Linked DNA regions of Homo sapiens: region 1 is linked to region 2. The links come from fine-mapping of genetic effects on gene expression. A gene starts in region 2. The other region holds a variant in brackets. All regions are shown on one strand. Distances are from middle to middle. Region 1 holds the start of SNORD62B (small nucleolar RNA, C/D box 62B). Region 2 holds the start of PRRC2B (proline rich coiled-coil 2B).

Evidence for each region. PIP is the estimated chance that this variant, and not a neighbour inherited with it, causes the effect.
Region 1: its variant is fine-mapped to the expression of PRRC2B in skeletal muscle (FUSION, PIP 0.95).

Annotation. Positions count from the first base shown.
Region 1 is chr9:131,485,072-131,495,433 of GRCh38, reverse strand. It overlaps PRRC2B (proline rich coiled-coil 2B), which reads right to left. Exons shown (of 32, transcript NM_013318.4): 25 at 10,294-10,362; 26 at 9,252-9,349; 27 at 8,140-8,267; 28 at 7,338-7,578; 29 at 3,854-4,009; 30 at 3,174-3,265; 31 at 948-1,029. SNORD62B (small nucleolar RNA, C/D box 62B) reads right to left here and starts at 4,948; the gene lies at 4,863-4,948. SNORD62A (small nucleolar RNA, C/D box 62A) reads right to left here and starts at 9,769; the gene lies at 9,684-9,769. RefSeq lists an enhancer at 5,737-6,237. The variant A/G (reference allele first, on the strand shown) is at 4,712.
Region 2 is chr9:131,386,326-131,402,501 of GRCh38, reverse strand. It overlaps PRRC2B (proline rich coiled-coil 2B), which reads right to left and starts at 8,416. Exons shown (of 32, transcript NM_013318.4): 1 at 8,239-8,416. RefSeq lists enhancers at 244-1,235, 3,934-4,013, 5,631-6,392, 7,155-7,916, 9,043-9,192 and silencers at 7,723-8,012, 8,243-8,352, 8,383-8,572.

The DNA of each region.
Region 1 (10,362 bases), 96 kb before region 2:
CAACTGGAAGAACCTTTTCAAATCAGTGCACCTCCTGCCCCACAGGCAAAAAAGGCCCCTTCAAGTAGATCCAAGTGCCCCCTGCACGTCTCGGAGCCCCCGACTGTCTGCTGGGGCCCTAGGCAGACTTGGCCCCCACAGATCTCTGGCCGCGATTCAGCCAACCCCCCCACCATTCCCACTCTGTAACCTTTCCCTGGGGCCCCATTCCTAGTCAGGGCTCCCCTGGTCTGTGGCTCTACACGGGGAGTGGGGTGGGGAAGTCACAGAGCAGCCAGCGCATCTGCCCCCCACCAGGTCTGAACTCTGGAAGAAAGCTTTAGAAGCTCATTCCACACAACTTTCATGACCCCTAGGGGAACCAATGAGAGCAATCACTTCCCATCTCTACCAGCCAGGCACAGTGACTGATTAAAAACCCACGTCTGAGGGGCTTAAGCTCTGAGCCCCAGCACGTTTTAGAGAATAGAGAAGAGAATAGTGCGTGCAGGAAAAGACACTGCGATGTCCTTTTCATTATAAAATGGGAAAACTTAATTTCACCTGTGCTCCCACCCAGCCAAGACAAAGATGAGACACACCACTGACTAGAACCAGCGCGCGCACCCCGGCTCCTAAAGCCGACCCCCAAACCTAACCGAGTCTCCCAGGGCGCCTCAGCCCCGACCTGCCAGGGCTGGTCCACCTTCCAGCACCACCTCCTCAGAGGAATCAGCATCCTCCCTTCTCTGCAGGACAAGGAAGGATCCAGACGCCCGTCAAGAGGAGAAATGCCTTCGCCAGGAGGGACGCGGGCGGCCCAGCTCCCGGTTCTGTGCTCTAACCGCTAGGGCATGGCTGTCTTTAGACAGGGGGCGCTCAGATAGGTTGGACAGTCCCTTCTCTTTTGGCGCTTGGAGACGGGCCTAAGTGTCCAGGGCTGAAGGGTCTGGAAAGCCATCTTCTACCTGTTGCACGTAGTGTCCCTGCACAGAGCCCATGTTAACTGCTGATCCAGAGGGCTTCCCACTGGGGCTAGCAGAGCTAGGCCTGAAAAAACCAAAGGCAGGGGTTGAGAATACACAACGTGTCACCACAGAAATGGAGTCAAAGCCTAGCACATGGAGGAGGCACAAGGAAGGAAGGGCCTGCGGCCAGAGGCGCTCACTCGGGACGGTCCGTGGATCTCTTGGATGGAAAACAACCACAGACCTAAGACAGCCCAGAACGCAGAAGGGTGAGGGGGTGGCTGTCACTGACCACCCTGGCACCTCCAGGACAGAGCTCAAGGAGACGCACCGCAAGAGAGGGAGGCTGAGGCCCTGTACAGATGGGCATGGCTGTCCTGCTGTGCAGAAAGCGACACTGGCCGTCTCAGGGTCTGGACCAACACGATGCAGTGCCCCAGACAAAAGGCCTAGAAGCCTGACGCTGAGCCAGAACTGTGCCGAGTATTGTTCTAGTCTTCACTTTTCAGAAAAGGGGATGGGGGAACCAAAATGTACAACATGCTTCTAAATGTGTTCCACTGACCACTAGTTAGTTCCCAGGGATGTTAATTAGGTGCTACGTGGAAAAAAAAAAAGTCTGCGGTCAAAAAGCCTAAGTGCCGTGTGCAGAGTTCAACAGGACTCTCAACCTAGGCCCGCTCAGCCTGTGTGGTGAGTACCCTCCCCAGCAGGCCACCCTGGGGACAGCACTCCCCCAAGGACCTGACCAGGGAACCCTTGTTTTTGCAGCGCACATCTCAGCAGCTCTATTTCCAGAACACTTTGGCAAACACTGCTTTATACAATTATAGCAATTTCCCCAACCCCCCTAAAACACCATAGAAACAAAGCTACTAGTTTAAGGCTTCCACTTTCTAAATATGCTCCAAAGAATAATCTGCTGCCATTCATTCCTACAACTACATAGACACAGGCGACTCTTGTCCCGTGAGGCTCTGTCTCTGGGTTTTGCTTTTTGAGGAAGGCTCTGTAGCCAGAGGCTGCTGGAATCTGCCTGTGGCAGCAGCGGGACAGCGTCTGCTGAGACCTGCAGCCGCCTTCCTCCTTCCAGTTCCGCTCCATGGTCGGTGCTGTCCAGCTATCTTTTTCACACAGTCCTGATGTTTTGGTCTATGTGACAGACATGGTAGGAAAACGAAACGTACTAAAAACAGAAATAAATGAAGCCAGGAGAGTGAAAATAAGAACAGAAAAGATGGAATGGGAGGAAAATCTACAAAAACCCCTTTCTCTGGAAATGAAGGTACAAGAGTGGAATGCTGTGATGGAGGACAGGCAAAGGGCGGTGGGGCAGAGGGAGGGCAGCAAGGCAGAGGGGGTGCAGCTGGAGCAACTTGCAGACCATGGGGGCCCGGCTTGCAGAGCGCTCCTCAGGCCCACAAGTACCTGTGTAGTCGTGGGGATACCTCATGGCGTCTGCAGCGATGGTGTTAACCTCACAGGGCACCATGGGTCAGGCAGGTCTGTTTCACTCATTTGTAAACACAGAGGGGTCTCAGGAATCTCCCACATGTAACAAGGGTGGACTGTACAAGCCCTCGGAGCCCAGGGCCAGAGCGTGCTGCCTTCACACACCAGCACGGGCAGAAAAGGCAGTGGACCAGAGGCTCTCGCCAACATCCGACAGAGCCACCTGAGTATCCAGCTAAGGGGACCTGAGACAGTTGCTGGAGGTGGAGACAGACACAAAGGAAGCAAAAAGAGGGTGCTGGTTTGTAGCATGGAAGGAATGGCCCCATAAGCCCAGCAATAAAAAGTCCCCTGGCAGGGGTCATAGGGCAAGTCTGAGGAAAGAGACGCTGGGAAAGGCCACGCTCCTCCCCTTGCCAGGATGCAGCCCTGTGGCCAGTGGGTCCTGTTTTTAGGATCTAATGGGAAGTCACGTCAGTCCTGATGCCTACTAAATGTCAGCCGTTCCTTTTCCTACCTTTCCAGAAAGCTCCCCAATCCAGAGCATCTTATTATAATGATTAAAACCAAAACCACTCTCCTGACTCCTCACTCCCCCAAATTTAACTGGAACACAAGTGCATCCCAGTGCTGAAACACCACAGTGACACATGGCCCATAGAGGGACCAGGTCTCTGGCGGCTCTCCCTGGGCCCAGATTCTTCTGAGTCACTGGGCCGCAGCTCTGGCAACTGCTCAGCTACACAGCACGCAGTCCCCAGGGAGTGGCTTTACCTGTAGGTCTGTGGCGATGGCACGGGGCCTCCTGAAGGGACATTCTGTTTACTGTCGGCAAAGTGGAAGCCTTTCATCTCCATCTGAGAGGGCTAGAGAGACCAAGCAGGAACAAGCTGTCATTTGAGGCCCTGGAGACAGCTGGACCACACACTTACTGAACAACCCAGGGCAGAGGTGGTGAGGGCCATGGGAATTCCCAGGGAGGCATCTTATAGAGCAGTGGTTTTTGGCACCAGGGCCCAGTTTCATGGAAGACAATTTTCCCACAGACCAGTACAGCTCTGCAGCCCGGGGACTGGGGACCCCTGTTCTAGAGAAATCTGCAAGCCCTTTCCCTCTAAGCCAGACTCAAGAGGGCTTCTTCTTAGAAGCAAGAACCATCACAATATTTTGTTCTTTTTAAAGTGAAGTGGGAGAGCCAATGAAACATGGCCGTCCATAGCAGGGCCTCCTGGGGAGCTGGGGAGGAATGCTGATTCCTGGCCCTCAGCCCTCGACATGTTCAGAGTCCCCAGGACCTGCCTCTGTGATGGCCCCACACATGGTCACCTTCCTTTCTGCCCTGGCAGTCCCACGCCACTGGCTCTTTCTACCACACAGGGGTACTTAGCTTGCTAGAAAAAGTTGGTGACACAAGGCCCCCTCCCTAGGGTCAGAGGCAGATGGGGTCCCCTTACCTCTCTGCTGGTGTTCAGGACTGGCGGCTGGGACCCGGGCGGAGGAATCCTTCGGGGGGCCCCAACGGAGAGGCTCTGCCCAGGTGGCAGCTGAATAGACTGGGGCAGGATCAGTGGCTGCTGCCCGGAGCCGTACCGAGGCAGTGGCATGGTCAGCTGCTGGGCGACAATGACAGTCAGGAGGGGGAATGATGCTATGGAGAAACCCCAAACGCACCAAAGAGCGACCGCACATGCACTTCAGATTCATACACTTCAGAAGAACTAAAGCAAAGCCTGCATAAAGCAGGACATGCTCTAATTTCTACTGCAGCACAGGAGAGATCGCCCAGGATTTCACACCTTCGATGGCAGAGGCACGTCTTCTTGCTGGAATAGAGTAGGTGGTGAGAAAACGGGCAAGACTAAGCTGGCTGCAGGCATGGGAACTAACAGCGTTAAGTGTGTCTCATCCACATCTCTGCTAAGGGCTGCGTCTATCTTCAGCCCTTTCTGCCTTTGTCCAGCAAGTGCTTACTGAAAGCATACAAGGTGCCAAGGAAGCGGCAGGGCCCTGTCCAACATGGGCCTGCACACTGCCAGGATAGTGTGTCACACACTGGACACAGCTGCAGGACACTCGGGATGCAGAGCGGCATAGGATCTGTGGGTGCACACCAGATTTATGGGTGCACACGGGGCGGGGTGGGCAAGGAGAGGACGAGTGAGGAAAGTCAGAAGTAATGGCGAAGCCAAGTCCCAAAAGATGAAAGCTGCATCGGACGTATATCTCTGCATTCCTTTGTACAGCACACACGTTCAAGACTCTTACTGTTTTGCATCAAGTGGTGGTAAAAACAAGACTGGGCTGGATTCCAG[A/G]CTGTGGGGGTCCTTTGAAGCATGCTGACAGGAGAACAGGGTAGCTGCAGGGCCTAACTAACTAGAACAAGATATGCGAGGTGGGGATGTGGGCCCAGAGACTGTAAGGACAGGGGAACAGGATGGGGTAGGGGGGCTGGGCCACTTTTGGTCTCTCAGTCACTGTCCTCTTCATCTCCCTGCTATTGAGTCCACAGTGGAGGGTCAGAAGGATCTATTGGAATTACATCACTGAGACTTGTGGTGGCCAGAGCCGCAAAACACCATGCTCCTCCTTGGAGCACCAAAATGGTGCAGGATGAAAATGATGGGAAGATGCTGCCATTTATAGAGTGCTGACTTGGGGTATGATCTGACTTGCAGGGAGGCCAGGTAGGAGTCCCTACAGGAGCTGGACAGCATGCAGGGGTGTGGAGGGGATGAGACACAGCTGGATTCTGAATCCTTTTAAAGCCAGAGCTGACAGGCCTGCTGAAGGGTAAGGGGGTGAGGTGAGGGGGAGCAGGGAGCCAAGGAGGATGTGGACTGGACAAGCAGAAGGACCGGGAGGAAAATCGAGTTTTGAATATGATGAGTCTTGAGATGCCATAAGACACCATAGCAGACATGCTGGAAAGTCCATTGGATTTGAGATTCAATTCCAGGGACAGATCTGAGCTAAAGATGTCCATTTGGGAGTGAGGAGAAGATGAAGGAATTTAGAGCCATGACTCTTGAAACACACCCAAAGCAGGGCCCACGGGCATGCTGACCATTACAGACTGGGAAGGAGAGGGGACAGCAAAGGAGACTGAGGAGGAGGCCTGAGGCAGCAGGAAAGCCAGGAGCGACGGCCTGGAAACTGGGTGAAGAAAGTGGTTCGAGGGGTGTGGGGGGCGGGATTACGGGGTCAGCACTGCAGCTCGTCTGTGTACTGACGGGAAGGGATATCTGATGCATGAAAGAGAGGGAGATGTGCTGGGGCAGGGCCCCCCAGGGGCACAGGCAGCACCTAGGCAGGGATGTGGCCACAGGGGCTTGGAGACTGTCACTGCTCCTGTTTCCTGGGTGACACAGAAAGGGAGGTCATGGGTGGGAGGCAGCGAGGGGCAAGATGCAAGTCTGAAAAGCTGCTAGGAGGGTGGGGGTTGACTGGGAGCCACAGCTTGGATGAAATGCAAAGGCCATGTGGCTCGGCAGATCTGCTGATGGGGAGGAAGAAGCCAGGCCAAGGGGGAGGATGACAAAAACATGGGTGGCAGAGACTGGGTGTGGTGGCTAACACCTGTAATCCCAGCACTTTGGGAGGCCAAGGTGGGTGGCTCACTGAGGTCAGCAGTTCGAGATCAGCCTGACATGGTGAAACCCCCATCTCTACTAAAAATACAAAAATTAGCCGGTGGGTGGTGGGCGCCTGTAATCCCAGCTACTCGGGAGGCTGAGGCACGATAATTGCTTGAACCCAGGAGACAGAGAGGTTGCAGTGAGCCGAGATTGCGCCACTGCACTCCAGCCTGGGCAACAGAGCGAAACTCCATCTCAAAAAAAAAAAAAAAAAAGAATTTTGGAGTTGGGTCACTAGAGGGAGTGAATTGAAAAAGCCAGAGGTGACAACTGAGAGGGACACTGAGAGTTGAGATTATGCGAGAGCCACAGCTACTGGGAGCAGCCAAGCCTAGACAGGAGTGCACAGAGCAGGGGCCCATGTGAACAAGGGCACCAGTGGCGAGGAGGGCACAAACTGCATGGACAGGGTCCATGGCACAGAGACCCGGGGTCATCTCTGCAGACATCAAAACCACTAGGAACTGGAACAGGAGAGTGGAGACAGACTGCAAGCCAGACCAGACAAGGAGGGTGACCTTCAAAGGTGCCAAATACTGCCCACAGGTTGACGGAGAGGAAGATTTCTCAGCAGACACTGGATGTGGTGATGGCACCATAGCAGAGTGAAGGGCTTGTCAGGCACAGTCTATGGTGTGGGCTTCAAAGCTGGCGTTTCAGGGAGGAAGGAAGAAGAGGAGTCTAGAAGCATCAACAACTACACAAAGAGGACTCTTAACCCATTCCACACCCTACTGCACAAGGGCAGGGAGAAAGGAAGGAGCCCCCGTCTGGGGGCTGCAGGAGCAGGCAGTGCTTAGGGGACAGCCAGGTCTCAAGAATAAAGAGATGGATGAGGGGCCAGGGGTGGTGGCTCACGCCTGTCATCCCAGCCCTTTGGGAGGCCAAGGCGGGCAGATCACTTTGAGGTCAGGGGTTCGAGACCAGCCTGGCCAACATGGTGAAACCCCATCTCTACTAATACAAAAATTAGCCAGGCACAGTGGCACACACTTGTAGTCCCAGCTACTCAGGAGGCTGAGGCAGGAGCATCGCCTGAATGTGGGAGACAGAGGTTGTAGTGAGCCGAGATCATGCCACTGCACTCCAGCCTAGGCAACAGAGCGAGACTCTGTCCAAAAAAAAAAAAAGGTGATGGGGCTACTCAGAAGAGGCTGATTTCCTGCACGCTGAGGAATGGGCACGGTGGCTACCAACCAACAGCACGATAGGCCAGCACACACTGAGAGGCGGGTGAAAAGAAAAGGCAAGGTCGTGAAGGAAAGAAGCCTAGGGCTTTGGGTAGAGTGACTGAATTCCTGACCTGTGGGAGCTGGGAGTCCAACATCTGGGAGGCACCCAGGCCAGCAGCCTGGCTGAGCTGGCCCTCGTAGACCAGGGCTTGGTTCCCGCTCATGGGCTGGTAGGGTGAGCCAGACTGCGGCTTCACCATCTCCAAGGGCTGCATGCCTGGGAACGCCGAGTATGGAGGCTTCAAGGCTGTGCCCCCAGAGAGGATCATGGTGCTGGGCGGTGACAGGCTGGGGTGCATGTACACCTGAGATCTGCAAAAGCCAGACAGATGGTCGGGATCAGGTGGATGAGTCCAGCTGCGGATCTGGTCCCACCCTTCAGAGATCCCCGGAGAGCTTGCTAAACCACAGATCCCCGGCCCCACCCCCAGAGCGCGACTCAGAGGGTCCAGGATGGGGCCTGAGAACAAGCTCCTAGATGGCGCTGATGCTGCTGGATTAAACAAGTGAAGACATCCAGGCTGTACGAGGCACAGGACATCAGCCACAATGACTGGCAGCCACACTGACGGAGAAGCCCGCGGTGGGGAGGAGACAGGGAGTCAAGGGGAGAGGAGGAGGAAGGAGCAAGGAAAGGAGGCAAGATGACATGGAAAAGCAAAACACGGCCCACCACATATCAGCTCGCCCCAGGCCTCTCCTAGAGCACAGTTAACAACGGACTGAAGAGTGATTCAGAGCAAACTCCCACCCCTCCCCGCCCCACTGGCCCCAAAGCAGACAAGCACCAAACAGCTGCAGGACGAAGGCTGCACACAGGGCCAAGGCCCTGGCTGTGAGCTGCCAGCTCCGCAAGCTGGTACATGAGCTCACCTGAAGGGCTGCAAGGAGCTGAAGATCTCCTGGGACTGGGACACAGGAAGCCCACCCCTCAGTCCAAGCTGAGCTTGTGCCTGCAGAGATGTGTGAAGGGAGATCGGGATCTGCTGGGCAGCGGCGGCCTGTGAACGGGAAAACGGGGTCGGGGAGGTAACCGCAAGGCCCATCCAGGTGGTTCTTCCCCTCCCACCTCCCCTGCCCCTCTCCACATGGCTGCTGGAACACTGCCCAAAATTCAAATGCCAGCATGTCATTCCTGGGCTTCCCTTGCTATTGGGATAAAGCCTATAATGAAAAACTGGTAGCAACCCCAAACCACAGCATATCCCTACCCTGGAATTCTACACAGCAACAAAAATGGATCCTAGCACATACGTCAACAGAGGTGAGTTCCAAAAACATAACGCTGAATTTAACAATGCACAAAAAGAAAGATACATGCAGTCTGACCCAGTTATGCAAGAACCAAAATCTTGGTAACCAAACAATACAGCAGTTAAGAACATGTTTTTAAAAAGAGGTCAGCAGAGGCCACATCCTCCATCAGCAAGCCTGCACTTGGAGCAGATTCTGCCTGGAAGTCCACTGTCGTGGCTGTGGAGGCACATGGGTCTGAGGGGCGGCTAGACCATCCCAAAGGCCCAGCACCAGCATTAGAGGGGAGACTTCCAAAAATCACCCCTTGGCAGCACAGAAAGTATGCCAGTCCTGCATAAATAACCAACGCCTGCTCATTTCTAAGACTACCTCTTTCTAATGCATCCATGCCTGGGAGTTTAGGCCTTTCTTCTCTTCATCAGAAGGATACCTGATCACCAAAGAAAATTCCATTTTAGCTAATTCCCCGGCTAGGACACAGGAGGGAGAACTTTGAGAAAGGAAAACTAAGCAGAGTCTGGAGCAGCCAACTCCACTCCTCTTCCCTGTCTCGATTATTCGCTTAACAAATGCCTCCTGGCTGCCGTGGCGGGCCAGGTGCTGGTCACCACATGTGAGGGGGATGGAAAACCAGACAGACAATGAGAAATAGATGAGCAAGCCAATTCCGCCCTGCACTGGCTCCTCCCCACCACCCCCAGCCAGGCCACCTGGCTAGCTGCTGTCACCTGTTGGTAACTCTGCTGCTGAGGTATCGTTTGAGGAACCAGCCGGGGCTGACTTGCAAACACATGGCCATCCAGGTACAGGGGCGGGAGGTGGCTGCCTGGAAACAGAGCGGCAAAAGGGACGTAGAAGAGGATCAAGCCTCACTACTTCTCAATGTCCCTGAGGGAAACAGTCTACAGGTCTGCTCTACCCAGGGGACTCAGTGGGGACGAGGGCGTGTGTACAGAGGCTGCTAGGTTCCCTGTGTGCCGGAAGCACACGCCTGCTCACAACACGCCTGGCACGCACCTCAGGGAACGTAGGGAGGGTGCAGCGTCAGACCTAGGAGGAGGGAGGAGGCAGGTGGGCTCTGGCCTACCCTTCCCACCTCCCACTCACCAACTACCCCAGACACTCGAAGGGGCATTCTACTTTAACCAGGGCTGCCTTGGTCTCTCAGTCACTGTCCTCTTCATCTCCCTGCTATTGAGTCCACAGTGGAGGGTCAGAAGGATCTATTGGAATTACATCACTGAGACTGGCAGCTGGGCCCTCAAAACCCCCACGCTTCCCCTTGGGGACACTGGCACACGATAAGGATGGCAGCAATCAGGACAAAAGTAGCTGCCAGTGACTGAGGGCTCTGTTGATACAAAGCCCTTTCCAGGTAAGACCTGGCCTCACGGGTGTGGCCACCCCACGGAGTTTCATGTAAGAGAGGAGAGGACACTGTGGCTCGGCAAGAGCTGCTCACCAGCCGAGGCGACACGGCTCCAGCACATGACCCAGGTCTGACTCAAAGTCAAGCCTTTGCTCGCTCCTGTCACCAGTAGGCAGGAGTGCCTCGCTGTTATCCCCCAGTTCTGTTTCCCAGCGTGGGGAAGCAGGACGTGCACATTACCTGCAGCACATGGGAGCTACGACCACTGGGCCTAAAAACAAGTTGCTACTTCTACATGCTACTTAAGACAAGGCCAGGAGGTGACATTCGGGGCTGTTAATCCGTTTTTCTTGATAATAAATGGAGAAGGACCCCAAGGCCTTGCTCAGGGGATGAGATACCTGGCATAGAAGCAGAAGGTGCTACAGAGGCCACAGGCATGGGTGGCATGGACACTCCACCGAAGGAGC
Region 2 (16,176 bases):
CCGTCGCTGAATGAATAAATAAAATGTGGTAGATACATGCAAATAAGAGAATATTATTCTGCCTTAAGAATGAAGTTAGTTCTGACACATGCTGCAACATGGATGAACCTTGGAAATACTATGCTAAAAATAAGCCAGACACAAAATGACAAATACTGGATGATCTCACTTACATGAGGTACTTAAGAGTATTCGGTTTCACAGAAAGAAAGTAAAATGGTTGGCAGGGCAAGGTGGCTCAACATTGCCACCATGGGATTACACATGGCTGTAATTCCAGCACTCTGGGAAGCCGAGGCAGGCAAATCGCTTGAGCTCAGGAGTTCGAGACCAGCCTGGCCAACATGGCGAAACTCCGTTTCTCCTAAAAATACAAAAATTAGCCAGACCTGTAATCCCAGCTATTCAGGAGGCTGAGGCAGGAGAATCGCTTGAACCCGGGAGGTAGAGGTGCAGTGAGCCGAGATCGTGCCATTGCACTCCAGCCTGGGAGACATAACGAGACTCTGTCTCAAAAATAATAACAATAATACAAAAATTAGACCAAGCACAGTGGCTCACGCCTGTAATCCCAGCACTTTGGGAAGTCGAGGTGGGCAGATCACCTGAAGTCAGGGGTTCGAGACCAGCCTGGCCAACATGGTGAAACCCCGTCTCCACTAAAAATACAAAAATTAGCTGGGCATGGTGGCAGGCGCTTGTAATCCCAGCTACTCGGGAGGCTGAGGCAGGAGAATCTCTTAAACCCAGGAAGCAGAGGCTGCAGTGAGCCGAGATCGCGCCATTGCACTCCAGCCTGGGCAACATCAAAACTCTGTCTCAATAAAATAAAATAAAATATACAAAAACTAGGCCAGGCACGGTGGCTCATGCCGGTAATCCCAGCACTTTGGGAGGCTGAGGTAAGCAAACCACTTAAGGCCAGGAGTTCGACACCAGACTAGCCAACATGGTGAAACCCCGTCTCTACAAAAAAATACAAAAATTAGCTGGGTGTGGTGGCGTGTGCCTGTAATCCCAGCTACACAAGAGGCTGAGGTTGCAGTGAGCCAAGATCGTGCCACTGCACTCCAGCCTGGGCGACAGTGAGACCCTATCTCAAAAAAAAAAAAAAAAGGAGAAAGAATGGTAAGAATGGTGGCCGCCGCCACTGGATGGGGGAGGGGAGTTGGCATCTAATGGGAACAGAGTTTCAGTTTGGGAAGATGAGAACGTTCTGGAGATGGATGGTGGTGATGGTTGCACAACACTGTGAAAGTGCTTCACGCCACTCAACTGTACACTTAAAAATGGTAAATTTTATGTTATGTATACTTCACCACAATTTTTAAAATTCAAATAAAGAAAAAAACACCTATTTACAAGTTGTGAAAACTGCTATAAAGAGAAACTGTAGGGGGCTCCGAAGAAATCACAGGAGGCTGAGGCAGGAGAATCGCTTGAACCCGAGAGGTAGAGGTTGCAGTGAGCCAAGATCGCGCCATTGCTCTCCAGCCTAGGCAACAAGAGCAAAACTCCGTCTCAAAAAAAAAAAAAAAGAAAGAAAGAAACCACAAGAGGATGAGGCCAAAGTTAGGTGGGGGGCTCTCCAGGGCCTCCTCCCCACCAGACCAGGATCTCCCCAGGAGTCAATGGGGCATCCATGTCCCTAGAAACAAAAACTGTTTAAGACAAAAGGCTTCTCCAGGTTCAAACCAGTAAATGGAGTAAGACCTCAAGCCCCACTCATCAAAGGGCTTAACCAGGACTGAGACCCCCCAGAACCTAGTGGCTCATGAAAGAGGCTGCCTTGCTGGGTGCCGTGGCTCATGCCTGTAATCCCAGCACTTTGATAGGCGGAGGCGGAGGGATCACTTGAGTCCAGGAGTCTGAAACAGCCTGGGTGTCCAGGCACGGTGGCTCACACCTGTCATCCCAGCACTTTGGGAGGCCAAGGCAGGTGGATCACCTGAGGTCAGGATTTCGAGACCAGCCTGGCCAACATGGCAAAACCCCGTCTCTACTAAAAATACAAAAAGTAGCCAGGTGTGGTGGTGCACGCCTGTAATCCCAGCTACTCGAAGGCTGAGGCACGAGAATTGCTTGAACCCAGGAAGTGGAGGTTGCAGTGAGCCAAGATCGCACGGCTGCACTCCAGCCTGCGCAACAGAACAAGATGCCATCTCAAAAAAAAAAAGAAAGAAAAGAAAAGAAAAACAAACAGCCTGGGCAAAATGGCGAAACCCCGTCTCCACAAAAAAATACAAAACTTAGTCAGGCATGGTGGCGCATGCCTATAGGATCCCAGCTACTTGGGAGGCTAAGGCAGAAGGATCATTTGAGCCCAGGATGCAGAGGTTACGGTGAGCTGAGATCACATCACTGCACTCCAGACTGGGCGACAAAGTGAGACCCTGCCTCAAAAAAGAAAAAACTAAGAAAGAGACTGCCTTGGGCTCAAGGCTGGAGAGGGAGGTGACAAAGACTGAAGGAGACAACCGATCCTGTCCAGAAGAGAAGAACAAACCTGCAATCCTCTGACCCCAGAAATTCCACTTATGGGAGATAATCAGCCACGTGGACCAAGACTTAACATGCCGAGATGCTCCCTACAGTTTCTCTTATAGGAGGGAAAAGAGGGCAACAATAATCTAAATGTCTACGAATACAGGAGTCAATAAATTATGGCATATCCGTATAATAGCAATTATATAATTATAAAAATAACGTAGAGGAATACACTATAACATTAAAAGGGGAAAAGCAAGCTATCAACTGTGTATTCAATGTATATATACTATTGCTCTAATTTAGAAAACACAGACATTATCAGAGGAAAGAAACACACCAGCAACTTTACTGCAGTTAGCTCTGGATGGTGAGGTCACAAGTGATTTATATATTTATTTTGGCATTTATTCTTTTCAGTATTTTCCTTTTTTTTCAGATGGAGTCTCGCTCTGTGGCCCAGGCTAGAGTGCAGTGTCGTGATCTCGGCTCACTGCAAACTCCGCCTCCCGGGTTCATGCCATTCTCCTGCCTCAGCCTCCTGAGTATCTGGGACTACAGGCGCCCGCCACCACGCCCGGCTAATTTTTTGTATTTTTAGTAGACACGGGGTTTCATCGTGTTAGCCAGGATGGTCTCGATCTCCTGACCTCGTGATCCGCCCACCTCAGCCTCCCAAAATGCTGGGATTATAGGTGTGAGCCACCGTGCCCAGACTTTTTTTTTTTTTTTTTTTTTGAGACAGAATTTCACTCTGTCTCCCAGGCTGGAATGCAGTGGCACAATCTCGGCTCACTGCAACCTCCACCTCCCAGGTTTAAGTGATTCTCCAGCCTCACCCCTCCTGAGTAGCTGGGACTACAGGCACTCGCCACGGCATCCAGCTAATTTTTGTATTTTTAGCAGAGACGGGGTTTCACCATGTTGGCCAGGCTGGTCTTGAATTCCTGACCTCAGGTGATCCGCCCACCTCGGCCTGCCAAAGTGCTTGGATTACAGGCGTGAGCCACCGTGCCCGACCTACTTTTTATTCTTTTGAGACAGGGTCTCACTCTGTCGCCCAGGCTAGAGTGCAGTGGCATGATCACGGCTCACTGCAACCTCAACCTCCCAAGCTCAAGTGATCCTCCTGCTTCAGCCTCCCAAGTAGTTAGAACTACAGGCATGCGCCACTATACCCTACTAATTTTTTCTTTTAAGAGGCATTTTTTTATTTTCATCACATTGCCCAGGCTGGTCTTAACCTGGCCTCAAGCAATCCACCTGCCTTGGCCTCCCCAAGTACTGGGATTACAGGCATGAGCCACCTTGCCCTACCACAAGAAAAATGTATTTAAAGGGCCTTGTACAATGCCTGGCAAATGATAGGTGCTCAAGGAGTATCTATTGCCTGACAAGTCAATTAAAAATGCAATAAATACTGCTGCTGCAGCCCCACAGAGAAAAAGACTGATGGTTATCTTGGAAAGGAGGAAGACGGTCCAGACGGAAGCCACACAACTGGCTGCAGAGGTAAGAACGGAAGGAAGTCCTGTACAAGATGTGAAAGACCGCCAGCAACTTGAGATAGGCTTTGTTCTGCCAGCTACTCCTGCTGCACGCAATGCTTCACAAATCAGTGCTGCTGCCAGCACCTCGGAGGTGCACTTCAGCTCGGACGAAGGATGCTTCTCAGGTCACACAGAAAACCAACAAGTACAGCTGAGAACAAAGCTCAACCACAACTTCTGGCTCAAGACACTAAGACAAACCTACCTCCCAGCACAAAAGAGATTTCCCACGTGCCACCCAGAGGTATAAACAGTAATATCGCCAATGGCAAGGCCCAGGTCTGCCAGCTCCCAGGTGAGGAGGTCCAGTCTGAATGGCACCTTTTAAACCTAAAGCTAATGACAAACAATTCTATTTCACCAGAAACAAAGCTCACCATATCCCATGTCGCTCCCATCTCCAACACCACAGCCAGTGCCTGTATTTCTTTGTCCCAATGACAGACCCAAGTTTCCTGAGGCTGTACAAGTCCCAGAAATAATCTTAAAAAGAGATCAAGTTATGATCTGAAAAGAAGACAGTCTAGTTAGCCCTGCCTCCTTACATGAAATTTATTTAAAACCAAAATTACAAGATTTGGAGCACAAAGCCCATTGTCTGCTGGAAATGTTGTTTTTTGGGGAGAAATCCATTGTTTTAAAATCTAGTATAGATAGGCTCTATTTAGTACCTGTCCGCCCATGACAAGATATGTACATTTCACGGTAGGGAAGCCTCATTATTGAATTCAGAAATACATGAATTGACCCACCTGGCCTATTCTGGTTTGAAATAGAAACCAACACAGAAATGATCAATCTTAAGGGGTAGGATAATGAGACATATAACTAGCATACAGCCACAGCCATTAGCAACATGAGTCAGTACTTTGTGCAAGGCAAAAAAAAAAAAAAAAAAAAACCCTCAAAAGTACAATAAAATAATCCTTCAGGATAAAAAAAGAGAACTGAAATTCAAAAGAGGTTAGGAGTGTTGAACAGGAAAAAAAAAATTAATAACAAAAATCCCTCAGCTAAGCACAAGGCAAAGGGACCCATGCTGGAACCAGTTCTGACCTGCCATTCCTGAAATTCCACTCTCCCGAGGTTTCCTGGCTCTTCCTTCCCCAGGCTTTCTTTTTACCTATTTGGGCCCAGTGGAGGCTGGAGACGGCCACTGTACGAGATGGGACGCCCACACAGTGGGCTTAGGGCCTAAGGCAAGGGCATGCAATCAGCATTAGGGGGCCACAGATAACCAAAATTCACAGGTATGCAGAAGCTCATGGGAGAGGCAGCGACTATCTCCTGGCCTAACTAACCAGTTAACAGTATAGAGCCAGACTGGGCCCGAGTGAAGTCAGACAAAAAGGAAGGGCCAAGAGGCAGGAAGCGAGGAAAAATCAAAGGATGACAGGACCCTGCTAAAATATCTCAGTTCCACAGCTAGGAGGTCTGGAGGGGGTGCCACATTTTACCAAAAAACCAACAAGATGGTTGCGGGAATGCCAAAATGAACCAAAACAAATTCCCCAATAAAATGCAGAACCACTGCAGAGCCATTTACCAACAAGCTAACATGTTCAGCCAAGAGGTGACCTGGGTCTCAGTCCTCACTTGTGGCCAACACTGGGTTCAGTCTGTCTCCTGCTTCTTAGCAATAGTCCTTCCACACAATCTCAAACAGCAGACACCGAGATCTGGCTGAGCTCCCTAGCTGTACTAAGCCATTCTGGTGCTTCCAGGTAGATGGGTGATAGTCACCATAGCAAAACATTAGCCGGCCATAGAATTTGGGGTGGGGAAGTCACAGTTCCATCAACCAAGAGAAGAGGAAAAAATAAGCATTAAGAGAAAGAAGACCGGGCGCGGTAGCTCAGGCCTGTAATCCCAGCACTTTGGGAGGCCAAGGCAGGCAAATCACCTGAAGTCGGATGTCTGAGACTAGCCTGGCCAACATGGTGAAACCCTGTCTCTACTAAAAACACAAAAATTGGCCAGGTGTGGTGGCACATGCCTGTAATCCCAGCTACTCCAGAGGCTGAGGCACGAGAATCGCTTGAACCCAGGAGGCGGAGGTTGCAGTGAGCTGAGATCACATCACTGCACTCCAGCCTGGGCGACAGAGTGAGACTGTCTCAAAAAAAAAAAAAAAAAAAAGAAAAGAAAAGAAAAAAGAAGGAAGGGAAGGAAGGAAAAGGAAGGGAAAGGGAGGGAGGGAGAGAGGAAGAGGGCAAGGGAGGAAGGAAGGAGAAAGGAACCAGAAAAACAGATAATCAACAAACACATACATTTCATCACCTTCCTATGGAGAGAAAACAATTCACTGTGAATCTTAAGTGAGGCTCCCAAGAGCCCTAATAGATACCCAAGGCAGGCATAATTATTCCCATTTTACAGATGCAAGATCTGAGCCTCAGAGACTTGCTTTGTAAAGGTAACCCGATGAGGACCAGAATCCAGCTGCGCAGGCTCCAAGAGACACACTTGCCCAAACAAGTAGAAACTCACTCTCAGATGATTATCTGCCAATCCCCAAGGAAAGCAGTTATCCTCAGAAGGCAGGACTCCTTGGGCGTCTGTTTGTCCTGAGCATCTCGTACTGTTCTAACCCTGCCTTAAACTGACCAACTGCCACACACTCCGGGTCTACTAAGTTCTAGAGACCTCCAAATGCTACTTTTTCCCATCCCTGCCTCCCGAGAGGCTCAGCACTGTATAAGCGCCCACTAATGTTTGGGCCTTGAATTCCTTCTGTATTGTCCATGCCTTAGGCCAGCACCTGTGGCATCCATGGGCACAGTTTGGCTCTATGGGTGGCACCACAAGGGGCTCACGTCTGTCCTAGGACTTGACAGCAGTTATACCAACAACCGTAGGAGGAACCACTAACTGTGCCAGGCCCTCTGCTAGGCCCTTCACCGCTGCCCAAACCTGCCAGGTGGAGGGTGCACGCCCCGATTTATGCAGATGAAGCCTCAGACAGCCCCAGAGTCACTAGGTTTACGGAAGAAAGAAGCAGGATCTGCACCCCAATGCCTGGGCCTCCCCAGTCCCACCTTACACCACAGCGCTGTGCATAGACATGACTAAATGGCTGCAGCGAGATTCGGAAAAACCATGCTAAGACCGCACACAATTGGTTACAAAAACCAAACTGGATGACACTGTACAAAGCCACATCAAATGCACACTAAACCTTAAAGAAAAAAAAAATCTTAGGGAAAGTTTAACAGTCCTGTAAACCAAAGGCATTTAAAGATTTCTCCCAGGAAGCCATTTAGCAAAAGACACTCCCCAGCCCCCCTTCTCCCACTTCCTTCAAGCTCACCACTGAAAACACCTCCAATTCTTGCCTAAAGGTGGGCTCCGACCTCCCACGATATTTAGAAGGAGGAAAAAAGAAAAAGGAAAAAAATCCACCTCTTAAGGCAAATCCACTCTTCAGAGGCCCACAGTTTCAACAGGGCTGAATTTCTCTCCTGGGGGTTGAGGGGAGGCAAAAGAGGAGGAAAAAAAAAAAAACCCCATCTGGCAGGCCCCGAGTGGCGACATCCTGTTTATTATTAAACATTTTTAGCATGGAGCATTCAGCATTTCGAAAATAACCCTCTGGTTCCCGCACTCACACCGAGACTGGGCGGCCGCTCGCCTCCCTCCCCCAGCCGCCAACTTTAGCGCCGCCGGGGCCCGGCCCACCCCGCGCCAGGAACGGCCCCGCGAACGCCGCTCAGCGCCCCGGACCCAAGGCCCGACCCCGCAGGATCCCGCCTCGGGCGCGCTGCTCCGTCAATTGGGCGGGGCGGGGAGCAAAGACGCCGGCCCCAGAACCCCGAGACCCGGCTGCGGGCCCGGGACCCCCGCCCCTCCGGCCTCTGCAGCCCGGCCCGGCCTCGGGGGTACGGGGGTGGCGGGCGAGCCCTGAGGGAGTCGCGCGGCCCCTGGACCCCGCCCGAGCCTGAGGCCGCGCGGCGCCGCCACAACAATGGCGAGCGCGCCCGGGCCCGCCGCCCCCAGGCCCCGCGGCCTCCCAGCCCCGCAGCCCCGCGCCCGGCGGGAAGGAGGCGGCGGCGGCCGCGCTCGCGGACAAAGGTCGGGCAGGGCCGCAGGGCCCCCGGGCCCCCGGCGGCGGCCGCGGGAGACAAAGCCCGGCCGGGCCGCGCCGCCTCCATCTTAGCGCCGCCGCCCCCACGCCCCGGCCCCGGCCCCGGCCCCGACCCACCTGGTCTGGTTCCGCGGGCGCGGCCGGGCCGGGCGATGGCAGTCGGGCGGCGGTCGGGCACGGGGGCGGCGGGATGGCGGCGGATTGCGAGGCGGCGGCGCGGGCTGCTCGCTCGCTCGCTCCCTCCCTCCTCCCGGGCTCGCTCGTCGCTGCGCGGTGGAGCCTCGGCGCCTGTCTCGCCGCTCGCTCCCTCGCGCTCGGCTCCCCGCCCCCCGCCTGCCGCCGCCCCCGCCTCCTCGTCCTCCTCCTCCCGCCGCCGCCCGCAACCTGGGCCCGCGCAGCGCCCCCTGCCGCGCCTCCCGGGAGCGGCGGCCTTGGGATCGGCCCGGGGGCCGGGCGAGGGCTGGGGCCAGGGGGGAGGGGCGGGGAGCGGCGGGAGGGGGCTGGGAGGGGGCTGGGAGTGGGGAGGGGCCCGGGGACGGCGGGAGAGGCGGGAGAGAACGGGGCAGAGCGGGGATCGGGGAGGAGACCCGGAGGAGGGGCCAGGAGCCAAGAGAAGGGGCCTGGGAAGGGCATGGGCCCGGCCTGGGCCCGGGGGAAGGGCGCCCGGAAAGAGGGGGAAGGGATGGAGGGGGCAGTGACGGGGGAGCGAGCCCGGATCTCCGCCCCCTCCCCCTTCAAAACTGCAGCGCCTCAGAACAGACTAAGCCCGGATTTTGTTAAAATATGTATACGGTATATGAACGGAAAGGAAGCAGAAATAATACTTTTTTCATTTCAAAAGCAAGGTTGTTGCACAATATGGGTACTTTGTCCCATTTTTACAAAATGAAAACTAATAAGCCCCTCCTCTTGAGTGTTGTGTGTTTGTGTGATTGCAAAACAAAAGGTCCGGGAGACTGCACTCCTGTCTTGGTTACCTCCGTGGTTTGAGGTTGGGAGAGCGGAGGAGGGTTCTTACTTTTTTAGACACCTAACCAACTATAAAAGCAATTTCAAAAAGCAAATACAAAAAAAAAATGTTAGGGCCTGGCACCCAAATCATCCCACCCTCTTCCAGTCACGGTTGCTCTAAGCACCAGCTGCGGGCCATGCCCTATGCTAAAGCACGTGGTTTGTCTCACTTAATCCTAACCCAGGGGCAGATATTATTGTTCTAATTCACAGGTGAGACAAAGGAGGCTTTGAGAGAATGTGCCCCAGGCCACACTGCTGGACCCAGAAGGAAAATTAACCCACTTCAGCCTAACTCCAGAACTGAGGCTGGTGAACAAAGCTTAGTTTTTGGGGAGTAGAATTCTGGATACTTTTATAGCCTTATTTATAATTCTCTGAATTTTCCTACATTTTATCCATGGTCATTTTCAGTGTTATCCTTTTTTTCTTTTTTCTTTTTTTTTTTTTTTGAGACAGTCTCGCTCTGTCCCCCAGGCTGGAGTGCAGTGGCACAATCCGCAATCTCTGCTCACTGCAACCTCCAACTCCTAGATTCAAGCGATTCTCCTGCCCCAGCCTCCTGAGTAGCTGGGATTACAGACATCTGCCACCATGCCCAGCTAATTTTTGTATTTTTGGTAGAGATGGGATTTCACCATGTTGGCCAAGTTGGTCTGGAACTCCTGCGCTAAAGTGATCCACCTACCTTGGCCTCCCAAAGTGTTGGGATTACAGTGCCGGCCACTCTGTTTTACATCATCAAATCTGCATTATTCCCCTGCCAATGTCTTCAATATTTCGCTATCTCTACAAAACAGGGAGGATGTAACCCTAATTTTTGTTTTCGATTTTGTTCCTTGACCATCTTCAGGAAGGCCATAGAATTGGCCCAGTGCTCAAAACCCAGCAACTAATAAAAATGATAGAAGGCAAATAAACAAATAAAAAATAAATTAAATAAATAAACTGAGCCTCAGGTTCTTCATCTGTAAGGCTGGCGCAGTGGCTAACACCTGTAATCCCACCACTTTGGTAGGTCGAGGCAGGTGGATCATGCGGTCAGGAGTTCAAGACCAGCCTGACCAATATGGTGAAACCCCATCTCTACTAAAAATACAAAAATTAGCCAGGCATGGTGGCAGTCGCCTGTAATCCCAGCTACTTGGGAGGCTGAGGCAGAAGAATTGCTCAAACCCGGGTGGCGGAGGTTGCACTGAGCCGAGATCATGCCACTGCACTCCAGCCTGGGTGACAGAGTGAGACTCCATCTCAAAAAAAAAAAAAGAAAGAAAATAAACAAGCAAAAAAGAAATAAACTATCTGAAGCCTCAGATTCTTTATTTGTAAGGCCAAGCGTGGTGGCTCACCCCTGTAATCCCACCACTTTGGGAGGCCGAGGCAGGCAGATCACCTGAGGTCAGGAGTTTGAGACCAGTCTGGCCAACATGGTGAAACCCCGTCTCTACTAAAAATACAAAAATTAGCCGGGCATGGTGGTGGGGTCCTGTAATCCCAGCTACTCGGGAGGCTGAGGCACAAGAATCACTTGAACCCAGGAGGTGGAGGTTGCAGTGAGCCAAGAGCACGCCACTTCACTCCAGCCTGGGCAACAGAGAGAGACTCTGTCTCAAAACAAAATGATAGGAGGAGGCTGAACAGTAACAGGGTGGTTTACTGAGCACTTACTATGTGACAGCCACTGTGCTAAACACTCCCTATAGAGTCACTCAGGTAATCCTCACGACATACCCATAAAACAGACACTAGTGTGCCCATCCAACAGAGAAGAAAAGTAGACTTTGTGGAGGCAATACAATGCCCCCCACCAAAGATGTCCAAGTCCTGATCCCTGAAATCTGTGAAAATGGTACCTTCTCTGGCAAAAGGGATTCTGTAGATGGGATGAAGTTAAGGATCTTGAGATGCAGAGATGAATCCTGGATTATTTGGTTGGGCAGGTGGAATCACAAGGGTCCTCACAAGAGGAAGGAAGGAGGGTCGGAGTCGGAGAAGATGTGGTTGATGAAGCGGAGTTCATCATATTGACTGACAAAGGAATGACGCAGGACCTCACGCCCAGAAATGCAGGCTGCCTCTAGAAGCTACAAAGGACAAGGAATGGATTCTCCCCTAAAGCCTCCAGAAGAAAATGAGCCCTGCCAACCACCGTGACCTCCAGAACTTTAAGATAACAAAGTTACATAAGCCACTAAATGTGTGGTAATGTAGCAATAGAAAACTAGTACAACCTTGGAGACTTGCTGAAGGCAACACAGCGAGGGAAGGGTTAAAAGGCAAGCTAGGGCCAGACACAGTGGCTCAAGCCTGTAATCCCAGGACTTTGGGAGGCTGAGGTGGGCAGATCACTTGGTCAGGCGTTCGAGACCAGCCTGACCAACATGGTGAAACCCTGTCTCTACTAAAAATACAAAAATTAGCCAGGCCTGGTGGTATGTGCCTGTAATCCCAGCTACTCAAGAAGCTGAGGCAGGAGAACTGCTTGAACCTGGGAGGTGGAGGTTGCAGTGAGCCGAGATTGCACCATTGCACTATAGCCTGGGCGACAGAGCGAGACTCTGTATCAAAAAAAAAAAAAAAAAAAAAAAGCTAGGGCACAGTGGCTCACGCCTGTAATCCCAGCACTTTGGGAGGCCGAGGCAGGTGGGTCACGAGGTCAAGAGATCGAGACCATCCTGGCTAACATGGTGAAACCCCATCTCTACTAAAAATACAAAAAATTAGCCAGGCGTGGTGGCGGGCGCCTATAGTCCCAGCTACTCGGGAGGCTGAGGCAGGACAATGGCATGAACCTGGGAGGCAGAGCTTGCACTGAGCTGAGATCACACCACTGCACTCCAGCCTGGGCGACAGAGCAAGACTCTGTCTCAAAAAAAAAAAAAAAAAAAAAAAAGGCAAGCTAGGAGTCTTGGGAGAGAAGAGACCTGGCTTCAAATCCAGCTCAGCCATCTCCTACCTCCCTGACCATCCTCATGGAGAGAATGGCATGCAGTCATCCATCCCTGCAAAGTGCTTAGCCCAGAGGAGAGCCCTGGGAATCAAAGTTCGTCCGTTCATTCACTGGGCACCTGCACTCTGGTGCTCACTGTGCCAGGCTCTGGGGCCATGCTGTTGAACTGGGCAGAGAAGGGCCACTACAGTCAATAAAACAAACACAGGCCAGACGCAGTGGCTCACGCCTGTAATCCCAGCACTTTGGGAAGCCAAGGCGGGAGGACCACGAGGTCAGGAGATCAAGACCATCCTGGCCAACACGGTGAAACCCTGTCTCTACCAAAAATACAAAAACTAGCCAGGCGTGGTGGCGGGCACCTGTAATCGCTCGGGAGGCTGAGGCAGGAGAATCGCTTGAACCCAAGAGTTGGAGGTTGCAGTGAGCCAAGATCGCCACTGCACTCCAGCTTGGCGACAAAACAGGACTCCATCTCAAAAAAAAAAAAAACAAAAAAAAAAACAACCATGTTCCGAGGTTTTAGTTCTGGTTCTGTCTCCAACCAGCAGAGCTAGCCTTTTGGTGCCTAAGAGTTTCTACCTGCGAAAATTGGGTGGGGAGCACTGTGGTGTCTCTCCAGCTGGGATCCCCAAGCAGAGAAGAGAGCTTGGCACAAAGTAAGCACTCAATCTCCATGGTGGTTGAAAAGTGGATGCCTGGACAACTGAGGCCAAAATCATGGCTCCTGACCAACCACACAAAACACACGGCTCACAAAACCAGCCAAATAAGCACATGCACTAAAGCCTCCAAACCTCAGCAAGCCTGGAGGTGGGTGCCCAGCCTCCCTTCCCCTACTGTCACCACTATGGGGACAAAGCATCCAGCAAGGTGTCAGAGGAAGAAAACATACCTGGTGTTTTGAATACCTGCACTTAACAGTCGAGAAAATAGAGCATCAGAAAGTTCAGTGACTTGCCCAGCCAGGCACAGTGGCTCATGCATGTGATCCTAGCACTTTGGGAGGCCAAGGTGGGCGGATTGCCTGAGGTTGGGAGTGTGAGACCAGCCTGACCAACATGGAGAAACCCCATCTCTACTAAAAATACAAAAACTGAGCCAGGCATGGTGGCGCATGCCTGTAATCCCAGTTACTTGGGAGGCTGAGGCAGGAGAATCGCTTGATTCACCAGGGAAGCGGAGGTTGTGGTAAGCCGTGATCCCAGCACTGCATTCCCGCTTGGGCAACAAGAGCGAAACTCTGTCTCAAAAAAAAAAAAAAAAAAAATTGAAAGGAGCCAGGCGCAGTGGCTCACACCTGTAATCCCAGCACTTTGGGAGGCCAAGGTGGGTGGATTGCCTGAGCTCAGGAGTTCGAGACCAGCCTGGGCAACATGGTGAAACCCCCATCTCTACTAAAATACAAAAAATTTGCCAGGAGTGGCGGCATGCACTTGTAGTCCCAGCTACTTGGAAGGACGAGGCAGGAGAATTGGTTGAATCCGGGAGGGGGAGGTTGCAGTGAGCCAAGATCATGCCACTGCACTCCAGCCTGGGCAACGGAGCGAGACTCCGTCTCAAAAAAAAAAAAAAAAAAGGTAAAAGGAGGGGCCAGGTGCGGTAATCCCAGCACTTTGGAAGTCCAAGGAGGGCGGATCACGAGGTCAAGAGATCGAGACCATCCTGGCCAACATGGTGAAACCCTGTCTCTATTAAAAATACAAAAATTAGCTGAGCATAGTGGCGTGTGCCTGTAGTCCTAGCTATTCAGGAGGATGAGGCAGGTGAATCACTTGAACCCAGGAGGCGGAGGTTGCAGTGAGCCAAGATCGCGCCACTGCACTCCAGCCTGGTGACAGAGCAAGACTCTGTCTCAAAAGAAAAGAAAAGAAAAAAAGTGCTGGGCGTGGTGGCACACGTCTGTAATCCCAGCACTTTGGGAGTCCGAGGTGCGCGGATCACCTGAGGTTGGGAGTTCAAGACCAGCCTGACCAACATGGTGAAACCCCATCTCTACGAAATACAAAAAATTAGATGGGTGTGGTGGTGTATGCCTGTAATCCCAGCTACTCGGGAGGCTGAGGCAGGAGAATTGCTTGAACCTGGGAGGTGGAGGTAGCAGTAAGCCAAGATTGCACCACTGCACTCCAGCCTGGGCAACAAGAGGGAATCTCCATCTAAAAAAAAAAAAAAAAAAAGTAAAAGTAAAAGTTGATGAAATTAATTTTAATAATGATTTTTTTTTTTTTTTAGACAGCGTCTCGCTCTGTTGCCCAGGCTGGAGTGCAGTGGAGCAATCTCGGCTCACTGCAACCTCGGCCCCCCGCCCACAATGCGTTCAAATGATTCTCATGCCTCAGCCTCCTACATAGCGTGTGCCATCGCACCCAGCTAACTTTTTGTATTTTAGGTAGAGATGGGGTTTTGCCATGTTGGCCAAGCTGGTCTTGAACTCCTGGCCTCAAGTGATCCACCCACCTGGGCCTCCCAAAGTGCTGGGATTACAGGCATGGGCCACTGCACCTGGCCTAATAATGAATTTTATTTAGCCTACTATATCAAAAATATTACTGTTGCAACAGGTAATTAATATTTTAAAATTATAAATGAGATCACTGACATTCTTTGTGGTCACATGAAGTCTTCAAGTCCGGCATGTATTTTATACTTTATAGCACATGCCACTCAGTGCTGGGCAGGTTTCACACTCTCGGTGGTGGCACAGGGGCAGTGAGCTCTTTACCTTCTCCACTGTTCCTCACAGCCTTTGCCAAAGTTTGGGAAGTGGAGGAGATGACAGTACCGTGAGAGGCAGGATGACCGCATCTGTCTTATTTGATGCAAATCCCTCAGGGATTAAGTCTGGCACAAGGGAGATATCGGTCTAAGGCTCAGGAGGACAAGGACTTAGTCCATTTGGTTCTCTGCTGTGATGGTTAATACTGAGTGTCAACTTGATTGTATTGAAAGATATAAAGTATTAATCCTGGGTGTGTCTGTGAGGGTGTTGCCAAAAGAGATTAACATTTGAGTCAGTGGCCGGGGAAGGCAGACCCACCCTTAATCTGGTGGGCACAATCCAATCAGCTGCCACGGAACATAAAACAGGCAGAAAACTAAGAGAGAGAGAGACAGGTGGCCGGGCGCGGTGGCTCACGCCTGTAATCCCAGCACTTTGGGAGGCGGAGACGGGCGGATCACCTGAGATCGGGAGTTCGAGACCAGCCTGACCAACATGGAGAAATCCCGTCTCTACTAAAAATACAAAATTAACCAGGCGTGGTGGTGCATGCCTGTAATCCCAGCTACTTGGGAGGATGAGGCAGAAGAATCGCTTGAACCCGGAAGGCTGAGGTGGCGGTGAGCCGAGATCGTGCCATTGCACTCCAGCCTGGGCAACAAGAGCGAGACTGTCTCAAAAAAGAAAGAAAGAAAGAAAGAAAGAGACAGGCCTAACTTCACAGCCTACATCTTTCTCCCAAAGTTCTTCAGTTTTGGAACCTGGACCGGCTCTCCATGCTCCTCAGCTTGCAGACAGCCAGCCTGTTGTGGGACCTTGTGATCGTGTAAATTAATACTTAATAAACTCCTATATATATATATGACTTATATATATATATGATTATATATATCCTACTAGTTCTGTCCCTCTAAGAGAACCCTAATACACCTGTGCTATCCTTAGCATCAAGCATGGTGCCTGGCAAATAGTGAGTGCTCAATGAATTTGGTTGGTTTGTTGAATGGCAGAATGGGTGTCTGGCCCTTGACCTCATTGGCTACAACAGAAGGGACCCTGGGACTCATAGGGTTACCCGTTTTTATCATCTGACAAGAGAGGACATAAGCGTATGAAAAACCTGGAAGGACGTGGGTGTTCTGGGAAGACAGATGAGGAAGTATTAAGGGGGGAAAGTCAAGTCAAAGGCTCTGTTCCTCGGGCAGATCTGGAAGTGGGGTGACACCCTCTGGGGACAGTGGGAGCTGCTGCATCCCTGGGAGTTAAAAAGCCACAGGCATAGGCCAGGCGCAGTGGCTCACACCTATAATCACGGGACTCTGGGAGGCCAAGGCAGGAAAACTGCTTGAACCCAGGAGTTCAAGACCAGCAG